Linked DNA regions of Homo sapiens: all the other regions are reported to be linked to region 1. Evidence: microRNA targets listed by miRTarBase, many of them from high-throughput screens and not tested one by one. Region 1 holds a microRNA gene; each other region holds the end of a gene's coding sequence.

Evidence for each region. The annotated mature microRNA hsa-miR-548au-3p reads UGGCAGUUACUUUUGCACCAG and lies in region 1 at 1,317-1,337, shown strand. An mRNA with a match to its seed (bases 2 to 7 or 8) in the 3' UTR can be bound and repressed. Matches are read on the target gene's strand: a 7mer-m8 pairs with bases 2 to 8, a 7mer-A1 pairs with bases 2 to 7 and ends in A, and an 8mer does both.
Region 2: the mRNA of KBTBD6 is a reported target of hsa-miR-548au-3p. Seed matches in the 3' UTR shown: 7mer-A1 at 2,241-2,247.
Region 3: miRTarBase lists ZDHHC16 as a target of hsa-miR-548au-3p. Seed matches in the 3' UTR shown: 7mer-A1 at 578-584.

Annotation. Positions count from the first base shown.
Region 1 is chr9:93,593,558-93,596,748 of GRCh38, forward strand. MIR548AU (microRNA 548au) reads left to right here and starts at 1,284; the gene lies at 1,284-1,337. The region is part of intron 1 of PHF2 (PHD finger protein 2); the gene reads left to right.
Region 2 is chr13:41,127,937-41,131,007 of GRCh38, forward strand. KBTBD6 (kelch repeat and BTB domain containing 6) reads right to left here. Exons shown (of 1, transcript NM_152903.5): 1 at 1-3,071. The coding sequence ends at 2,551. Among named protein-coding and RNA genes, the nearest start is that of KBTBD6, 3.3 kb to the right of the region's middle.
Region 3 is chr10:97,456,732-97,459,802 of GRCh38, forward strand. It overlaps ZDHHC16 (zDHHC palmitoyltransferase 16), which reads left to right. Exons shown (of 12, transcript NM_198046.3): 12 at 46-639. The coding sequence ends at 160. MMS19 (MMS19 cytosolic iron-sulfur assembly component) reads right to left here. Exons shown (of 31, transcript NM_022362.5): 27 at 2,928-3,010; 28 at 2,631-2,795; 29 at 2,492-2,551; 30 at 2,069-2,169; 31 at 1,593-1,988. The coding sequence ends at 1,961. Among named protein-coding and RNA genes, the nearest start is that of ZDHHC16, 12 kb to the left of the region's middle.

The sequences.
Region 1 (3,191 bases):
TGTAATATCTGTTAAAAATCCACCATAACAAATTTAAAAGTATATAAAGAATGAATATTTTAGATATTTATTTAATTTATCAAGAATTCTACACTGTTGAATGATGAAGTTGGGATGACTAGGCAAATGACAGTGTCCTCTTGTAAATCGGAAATTATGCAGTCGTCAGCAGTGATGTTTACAGCAAGGCTTTAATGCTATGGGGATATCTTTATGATGATATTAAATGAAACACTACACACATAATGTGATGGCTGGTGTCAACCAATTAAAATGGAAGACGGTCTAGGAGGGAATATGCCAACATGTTAAAGGTTAAGATTACGTTTTTCCTACCACTTTTGTACTTTTCTGTACATTCCAATTTGTTTTCCAAGAGCTTAATACTTTTATAATCAGATATAAAGTAAGCAAGGGAGTAAGACCATCAGGGTTTAGAGGTCATATTGCCTGGCCTCCTGTTTTACAGATTTTATGGACTGTGGGTTTTATAGACACTGGGGCTTGGGTAGCTCTCTCTGCTGCACAGCAATTGGCCCCAGGCCTCCCTGAAGGAGCTGTGGTGGGTGAGGACACCTCACCCTTCCGGAGATATCTGCCCTTCCGGCACACCCCCTCTTCTCATGTGACCCCCCCCCCCTCCATTAATGCACAATGCACATTAGCTTAGTCTGCAGCCTATCTGCCTGTGTTGGCCAGAGCTACCCGAGGGCCCCTGTGGGTGGACAGGCCATTGACCATGAGCCTGCATGTAAGAGTTTTCAGTTGAAAAGGGCCCCGCCCAGTCAGCCCCTCCCCTGCTTTGGGAACATTCCAGGTCGGGGCGGCTCCTGTTCCCAGCCTCTTCAGGCTGATAGGTTCCTGACTCTTGGGTCAGGGATGGGCCTCCCATGGCACCAGGAGCAGCCACCACTTCCCAGAGCAGCAGGGCGTGTCACAGCTGTCATCGGGTGTACTTCCTCACCCCAAGGGTCTACTGCAAGTGGGGATCCCAGCTTGTGGACACCTGCAGAGGACCCCACAGGCTGTGTGAACTGAGCTTCCTCTGGCACTGCCCTCCTGCTGATTGGCAGCTAAGCTCCCAGTCACTGCTCCCAGTGACAGCATGAGTGGGAGAGCACATTGGGACCTTGTGCCTAAAACATGTGGATTGCAAGGTACATGGGGGTTTGACAGAAGATAGGACCGCTGAGGAGAGCCCAGTGGACACCAGCCTTAGTCCACACCGGCTGAGGACACAGACCAGCCTAAGTTCCAGTCTGAAGATGTTATTAGGTTGGTACAAAAGTAATTGCGGTTTTTGCTATTGGTTTTAATGGCAGTTACTTTTGCACCAGCCTAATATCATTCTGAAGGAATTATGTATCTTCATTTGAAGAATGGAGATTCTTCCTGCACAGGCTTTAAAGGAATACTTATAGTTACTTAGGTACTTACAGATGCCAATCACCAGCAGGTACTCAGGTACTTACAAATACTAAAGGAATACTTACAGATACTTGGGTACTTATAGATGCTAAATAATTACTAACAGGCATTTGGGTGCTTATCTTTAAAGGGGTACTTACAGATGCTAAATGATTACTTGCAGGTACCCAAATACAGATGAGAAATGATTAGTCATAACTATTCAGGTATTTATAGATACTAAATAATTACTTACACATACTTGGGTACCTACTGATGCCAAATTATTACTAACAGATACTTGGGTAATTATAGACACTAAATGATTACTTATATGTACTTAGATACTTAGGGATGCTGTGTGATTATCTGTGGATGCTCAGATACTTACAGATACTCTTCACCTGGAGGTAGAGAGTAGGGAAGCCTGACGCTACAATATGAGGAGCCGCTTTCAGTTGAATCTACTTTAGGAATGACGGTAAGGAATTTATGAAAATATAATGTAAACCTGAAGAAATTTAGGATTTGGAGTCACAGAAGATATTTCCTAGTTGTCTTCATTGTGTGACCACTCATTGGCCCAAAGCTGTGTCTGGAATGCCTGCACATATGTCTGAGCGTTGTGCATGGCTCCTCTCTGCATGTGCAGACACACTTTATACACAGACCGAGATTTGCATCTTCTGTGAACAAGGATGAGTGCGGCTGTGCATGCGCCCACTGGGCATATGTGTGTATACATACCTGGTTTGCAGGTAAATATGTGCGTAACCAGAGATGCCTTCCTCTTGATGGAACTTCCCTGAGGATGCTAGACCTGGATTTCCTGAGGTGGATTTCATGAAACAAAAAGTCAACATCCTGATGTTAATCCATTTTCTCTATAATCCCTGAGTGGGCAAATTTATAAGGGTTGTGTTAATGTTAGTTTTACTCCTGTCTCACAGGCACTGGTGATACTGTACTCTTTCAGGTTTGATAACTAGTCTTTGAATTCTTATGTCTGTGGCCACCAGCAGGATGGGGCATTTCCCAGTTGCTGGCTTACCCACGGTCTGTCCTCATGGGCGAACTGCCCTCCCGGCTCCACTGCTCTTGGCCTCTCTGGTTAAGCTGGCTCTTCCTCTTCTGTGTGCTGGGTCTAGTGGCATATGAGGCAGGCCGCATGGAGTGGGGGCTGTCCTGGGAAGCTGACCTCAGTCCAGCATGATACTCTGCACAGCTGTGGGTTAGGAGGAGGTTTCCCTGTTTCTATTGGGACCCCCTGTGCCCACGAGTGGAGGGCAAGCTGCATGTCACCTGGATGGCAGCTGGAGGAGTGGAGCTGACTGAAGCTTCATTGGGGCCCCTGCATTTTTCATTTAGCCCAAATTCAGCACCAGGGATCAAGGCTCCATGGATGCTTGAAGGAATGAAGGAGTGCTTGAATGAATGAAGAAATGCGTGTGCACTGGCCAGCTGGTGTGTACTGTGATGTCTCAGCCCTAAAAACCTGCCCTTCTTGAATATGGTGTGCTTCTTGGTGGGCCAGGTTTATCCTAGTGGGAGAGCCAGCACCCAGAACCTTCAGAGGACTGGGAGTCGGGAGGGGCAGGGCTCGAGTGCTACTCCTTTTTGTAGCAGGAAGAGAGGCTGTGTGGTGCTGGAGGGCTTCATGATCACTGGCCTCCTGTGTGCCTAGGGAGCTTGCTTCCCAGGAAGGTGTTGATGCATGCAGCTGAGCATGTGTCTCTGGGCAGAGTCAGGCAAATTGCACCTTCATGCCTCAGTGTTTCTGCCGT
Region 2 (3,071 bases), not on the chromosome of region 1:
AATGACCAAAATTTAGCCTTAGGGCACTAAAGCACATTTGCCCTTTTGAAGCACATACTAGTATGGCACATTTTATTTCACTAAAAGTGATGTTAAACGTGAATGTCTTGTAGACTATTTAAAGAGCCAGTCAAATGGCTAAAAAAACCATTGTTTTTTTGTTATAACTCTTTGTGTCTCCCTCTTTCCATTCTCATCTTATGATATTTCACTCAAAAATTTAGTTACCCACCCCAAAACACATTTCTCTCCCTTCTGCCAGGGTGTAAGAAATGTTAGCATTCTGTCACTAGAAAATAAACACTGAAGAGGAATTAGCATGTTAATGAACAAAGATTAAGGAAGGTAATACTAACAGGATAAAGGAAAATGTAGACCATAAGCATCTGGTCATTCATCATGTACATGTATCATGTCAACCATTATATATTAAATCTTCAAGAGGTAAGTACTTCTGTTTTAGTGTGTTTAACAATGTCAGTTTCGTGGGATTTAGTCTCTGTTCCAGGACCTTCTCTTACATTATGGTAACAGAAAAACAAAGACTGGAGCATGGTTTACAGAGAAATACAAAACACATACAAACATCATAATAAAATAGCCATTTATATCACTATTAGAGAAATATTTTAGAGAAAACATACTTTCACTAGTGGCCTCAAATGCCATCATCCACTTATGTTCTTTAACTATCAACTTTGTTTTTCTAAGAGATGGGATCTCGTTCTGTTGCCAAAGCTGGAGTGCTGAGACATGATCATAGCTGCAGTGAGCTATGATTATAGCTGCAGATGATAGCTGCAGCCCCGAACTCCTAGACTCAAGTGATCCTACATTCAAGTGATCCTCCCAAGTAACTGGGACTCAGACTTGGGCCACCATGCCCAGACATATTTTTTATTTTTGTAGAGATGGGGTTTTGCTATGTTGCCCAGGCTGGTCTCAAACTCCTGGGCTGAAGCAATCCTCCCACCTCAGCCCCGAGTTGCTAGGATTACAGGCATGAGCCACTACACCCAGCAACTGTCAACTTGTAATACAAAAATACCTTCAAGCTGATAATCAAGAACATTTAGTGACTTTAAAAAGCTGACAGAATATTTCCATGCTACACAAAACAGTTCTATACACAGCTTTACAGTTTTAAAGTTCTTTGCTGGCACTTGACTTTATAGTTAACACAATGACTACTGATATCAACGAAATACTGTTTTTAGCTTATATATATTTTCAAAATCAGTATTACCTCACAAAACAGTAAAGAAATATCACTTCTGCTGAAGAATCCTCTAAGATGAACACCAAAACTGTACAGCTAAAACATATTGAGAATCATGTAAATGTTTAAGGCAATAGATAAAAATTTATACAATCCAGTGAAATTTATACATGTCCAGCAGAAAAAAAAGGATTATTCCTGATTAAATGAAGCATGTATCAGGTTTAGATCAACAATACAAACCTACAAAGCAAGTTACTTCTTTTTTAAGGTTTTTTGATGATTTGGTGACACAACTAGAATATAACCTTTTAGATGAAAATTGGTGACTTTGCAAATACACATTCTAAATTCCAAAATTAAAACGAAACTTCTTTTCAAACAGTAGAATCCTGGTTTGTTGTTTTTACTGTCAATGAGCTTATAGCTATTCTCTGTATTATTATAAATGAAGTCACCACTCAGTCACCCTAATACACATATGGTTTTTTTTCTTTTTTTTTTTTCCTTTTTTTTTTTTTTTTTTTTTTGAGACGGAGTCTCACTCTGTCATCCAGGCTGGAGTGCAGTGGCCCAGTCTCGGCTCTCTGCAGCCTCTGACTCCCGGGTTTCAGCAATTCTCCTGCCTCAGCCTCCTGGGTAGCTGGGATTACAGGCGCATGCCACCACGCCCAGCTAATTTTTGTATTTTTAGTAGAGACGGGGTTTCACCATGTTGGCCAGGCTGGTCTTGAACTGACCTCAGGTGATCCACCTGCCTCGGCCTCCCAAAGTGCTAGGATTACAGGCGTGAGCCACCGCGCCCAGCCTGCATTTTTTTCTTCATAGAAGAAAACAAAAGTAAAACTTCCCAAATTATGTTTAACTTATAACACATTTTGTAAAGACCCCTTAGGTTAACCATTTTGGAAGTCTACATTGTTCTGAAGAAAAAGATATGCTTTCAAAACACTATCTAGCAATTCCTAATCATTTTTCTATTATAAAAATTAAAATTCAAAAGTTATTGCCACAGTGCTTGTGGCAGTAAACAGAATGTAAAATGTATCAAAAGACTAAATTAGTGTCATGAAACATAAACATACTAAATAATCAAATAAATACTGGACCCTTAGCACAGAAAATTATTAAAAGGTTGATTTGAGTGTTAAAATTTGTAACATTAAATTACCTTCGTATTTCAAACATTACTTTTTCTAAACCAAACCAGAAGTTAATCAACTTTTCCTCTCCTTTAGGAACAAAAAGGATATTTAAGATATTTTCCAAAACAGTAAAAACAACTTAGTGTTTCAATCTAGTTACAACAAACCCTGTTGATCCTGTGCATTTCACTGAGGCGCTACACGCACCCAAAAATCATCATCAGAAAGAGAACTTGAACTTCCTGACTCAGAGTCTGGCTCACTGAATCCACCTAAGTCCCATTCAGTGCTAGACTCACTTGGTATTTCTTCTTCTTCAGTGAGGAAACTCTGACCAGGTTCAAGGCAGGAAGGATAAACACGAGCAGAGAGGCAAAAAAAGTTAGAATCAAACTGCAAGAGGCCTAATGTGGTACCTATATTAATCCATTGGTCTCCCCTAATATCATATTCATACACAGTCACCCGGTTCTTTTTCCACTGTGGGGTGCGAGAGGTGATGAGCAACAATTTTTGGCCATGCTTGATAATTCTGTAGTTGTTGGTCTCTGAGACCAAGGGAATATTATTCATTTGCCTCCATTCTGCCCTAACTGGGTTGTAGACCTTCATGACTGGGATATCACAGATACAATAGATCTCCTCATTGAAGACGCAGGCTTCCTGAAAGTCATTGCGCTTCAGAGAAACGCACTTCAGCCACATAT
Region 3 (3,071 bases), not on the chromosome of region 1:
ACCAAGAATTCTTGAACTCAGAGACATTTCTCTCTTCTCTTCTAGGCACTGGCTTACTCGGGTGCTCTTACCTTCTAGTCACTTGCCCCATGGGAATGGAATGAGCTGGGAGCCCCCTCCCTGGGTGACTGCTCACTCAGCCTCTGTGATGGCAGTGTGAGCTGGACTGTGTCAGCCACGACTCGAGCACTCATTCTGCTCCCTATGTTATTTCAAGGGCCTCCAAGGGCAGCTTTTCTCAGAATCCTTGATCAAAAAGAGCCAGTGGGCCTGCCTTAGGGTACCATGCAGGACAATTCAAGGACCAGCCTTTTTACCACTGCAGAAGAAAGACACAATGTGGAGAAATCTTAGGACTGACATCCCTTTACTCAGGCAAACAGAAGTTCCAACCCCAGACTAGGGGTCAGGCAGCTAGCTACCTACCTTGCCCAGTGCTGACCCGGACCTCCTCCAGGATACAGCACTGGAGTTGGCCACCACCTCTTCTACTTGCTGTCTGAAAAAACACCTGACTAGTACAGCTGAGATCTTGGCTTCTCAACAGGGCAAAGATACCAGGCCTGCTGCTGAGGTCACTGCCACTTCTCACATGCTGCTTAAGGGAGCACAAATAAAGGTATTCGATTTTTAAAGATATGTAGCTTCTCACTCTCTGCCTCACGATAGGGCAGGGAAGGGGAAAGTCAGGGTCAAGACCTAGTGAGTAGGTGTTCTGGTCATGCTTCCTACATTTTTTTTTTTTTTGGAGATGGAGTCTCACTCTGTCTCTCAGGCTGTAATGCAGTGGCGCGATCTTGACTCACTGCAACCTCCGCCTCCCAGTTTCAAGTGATTTTTTTTTTTTTTTTTTTTTGAGACGGAGTCTCGCTCTATATCACCCAGGCTGGAGTGCAGTGGTGTGATCTCGGCTCACTGCAAGCTCCGCCTCCCGGGTTCACGCCATTCTCCTGCCTCAGCCTCCCGAGTAGCTGGGACTACAGGCGCCCGCCACCACACCCGGCTAATTTTTGTATTTTTAGTAGAGACGGGGTTTCACTGTGTTAGCCAGGAGGTCTCGATGTCATGACCTTGTGATCCATCCGCCTCGGCCTCCCAAAGTGCTGGGATTACAAGCTTTACAGGCGTGAGCCACCGCGCCCGGCTCAAGTGATTCTTGTGTCTCAGCCTCCCAAGTAGCTGTGATTAAAGGCGTATGCCACCACACCTGGCTAATTTTTGTATTTTTAGTGGAGATGGGGTTTCACCATGTTGGCCAGTCTGGTCTTGAACTCCTGACCTCCACTGATCCATGCGCCTCGGCCTCCCAAAATGCTGGGATTACAGGCGTCAGCCACCATGCCCAGCTTAATTTTTTTTTTTTTTTAATTATTTGTAGAGATGGGTTCTTGCTATACTGCCAGGGCTAGTCTCAAACTCCTAGCCTCAAGTGATCCGCCTGCCTCAGCCTCCTGAAGTGTTGGGGTTACAGGCATGTGCTACTGTCCTGGTTACCCTGAAAAATTTTTGGCCAATCCCTGTCATTGTTATTCCAGTGATGCCTCTGGTTATATGAGGCATATGTGGGGTGGGGGAAATATCTGACAGCCCCATTACCAAAAGAAATCTTTATTCTTCAGCAGGTAGACAACATCTGCCAGCCCTGGTCCTCAGGGCCACACTCATATGCACTCACCCCTCAGCAGCATATCGCCCCTTTTCTGACATATAAATGCAAGAGACCCAGGACCCTAGATCTTTCTTCAAACGCAAGTGTCTCACACACACTTATTTTACAAATCCACTAGAAATATGGACTCTTATGTTCTTTGTACAGCCATGCAACAGAGGCCTAGCATTTGTGCTGTGTCTGTGGGAAAGGCAGTCAGAGACCAGTGGTTTCCCTGCTTTGGGGAAGATGGCTCAACAGTTAGTAATCCCAGGTTAGATTGTCAGAACAGTCTAGGCCAGGACTGAGGGCTCAGCTGCCAGGGCTCCCCAACAGAAACCTGTAGGCAAAAAGAAAGTTGGCAGCATTAGTGATGAGGCTCATCTTGGTCCCATCTCTCCCCACGACCTAGAAACTCACCACTCCCCTCTGGCTGACACTGCTTCCTTGCGCACCAGTCTCTTCTTGTCATCCAGGGGTTTGGCTAAGGCCCGAATCACCTGTGGTTTGTACGGCAGCAGCTGTGGAGTCAGAGGATATAATCAACCTTGCTCATCCAAGGCAACTGAAAGTACCGCTTTTTTGATTCTGTACAACTAATATTCTGAGGAAAGCAAAACATCTTTAGTGATTCCAAGGGATGTTAAGTGGCAGGATGGCCTTTCTGTTACCTTCTGGGCCCAAGGAAAAGAATCCTTGGGCCCAGAATTACAAGATCTGTACCTTGTAATTCAGATCTCAATTACACACCAGGGTGGCCAAGCCCACCTGACTAAGGCAAAAAGGTACTTATGTGTCTCTTGAGATGTTCCCAGGCCAGGGAAGGACACCTGAGGTACTTACCACAGGGGTGGGCAGGCGAGTGAGAGCATGCATGCACTGCAGTGCGGCGATCCGGACAGCCTGGAACACAACCACAAGGAGGTGAGAGCATGCCCAGGGAGAGATGCTGGTGCCTAAGAGTTGCTGGGGCTCAACGCACCATGGAAGGGCTAGAGCTGAGGTTCAGAAACTTGGTGACGAGGGTGTCCACGTGAAGACTCATGACTTGGGGTGCTTCCAGTAGAAGAGGCTGAAGGCAGCTGAGGGTGGAGAGCTGCACCACACAGTCAGGGCAGGACAGGGCCTCCAGCAGCAAGGAAAGAAGCTAAGGGGCAATGGGCAAGGTAGGGGATGGCCACATCATGAAGATCCTGGTTCTTGTTCCCTCCCCTTTCTAGCCCCATCTGGGGAAGAATAGCTTTGTCCTTTGCTTAGAAGCTCTGCCTGTGGGACTTACCGTGGGCAGCTCTGGCAAGAGTACAGGCTTGGGCAGCCTGTTAAGTACATGAGAAAGACCCTTCAAGTAGTTTGGCTTCACATCTGTAAAAAATGGAAAGGCTTAGGGGAGAAATTGGACTTAGATATATAGCTTGAGAAATCA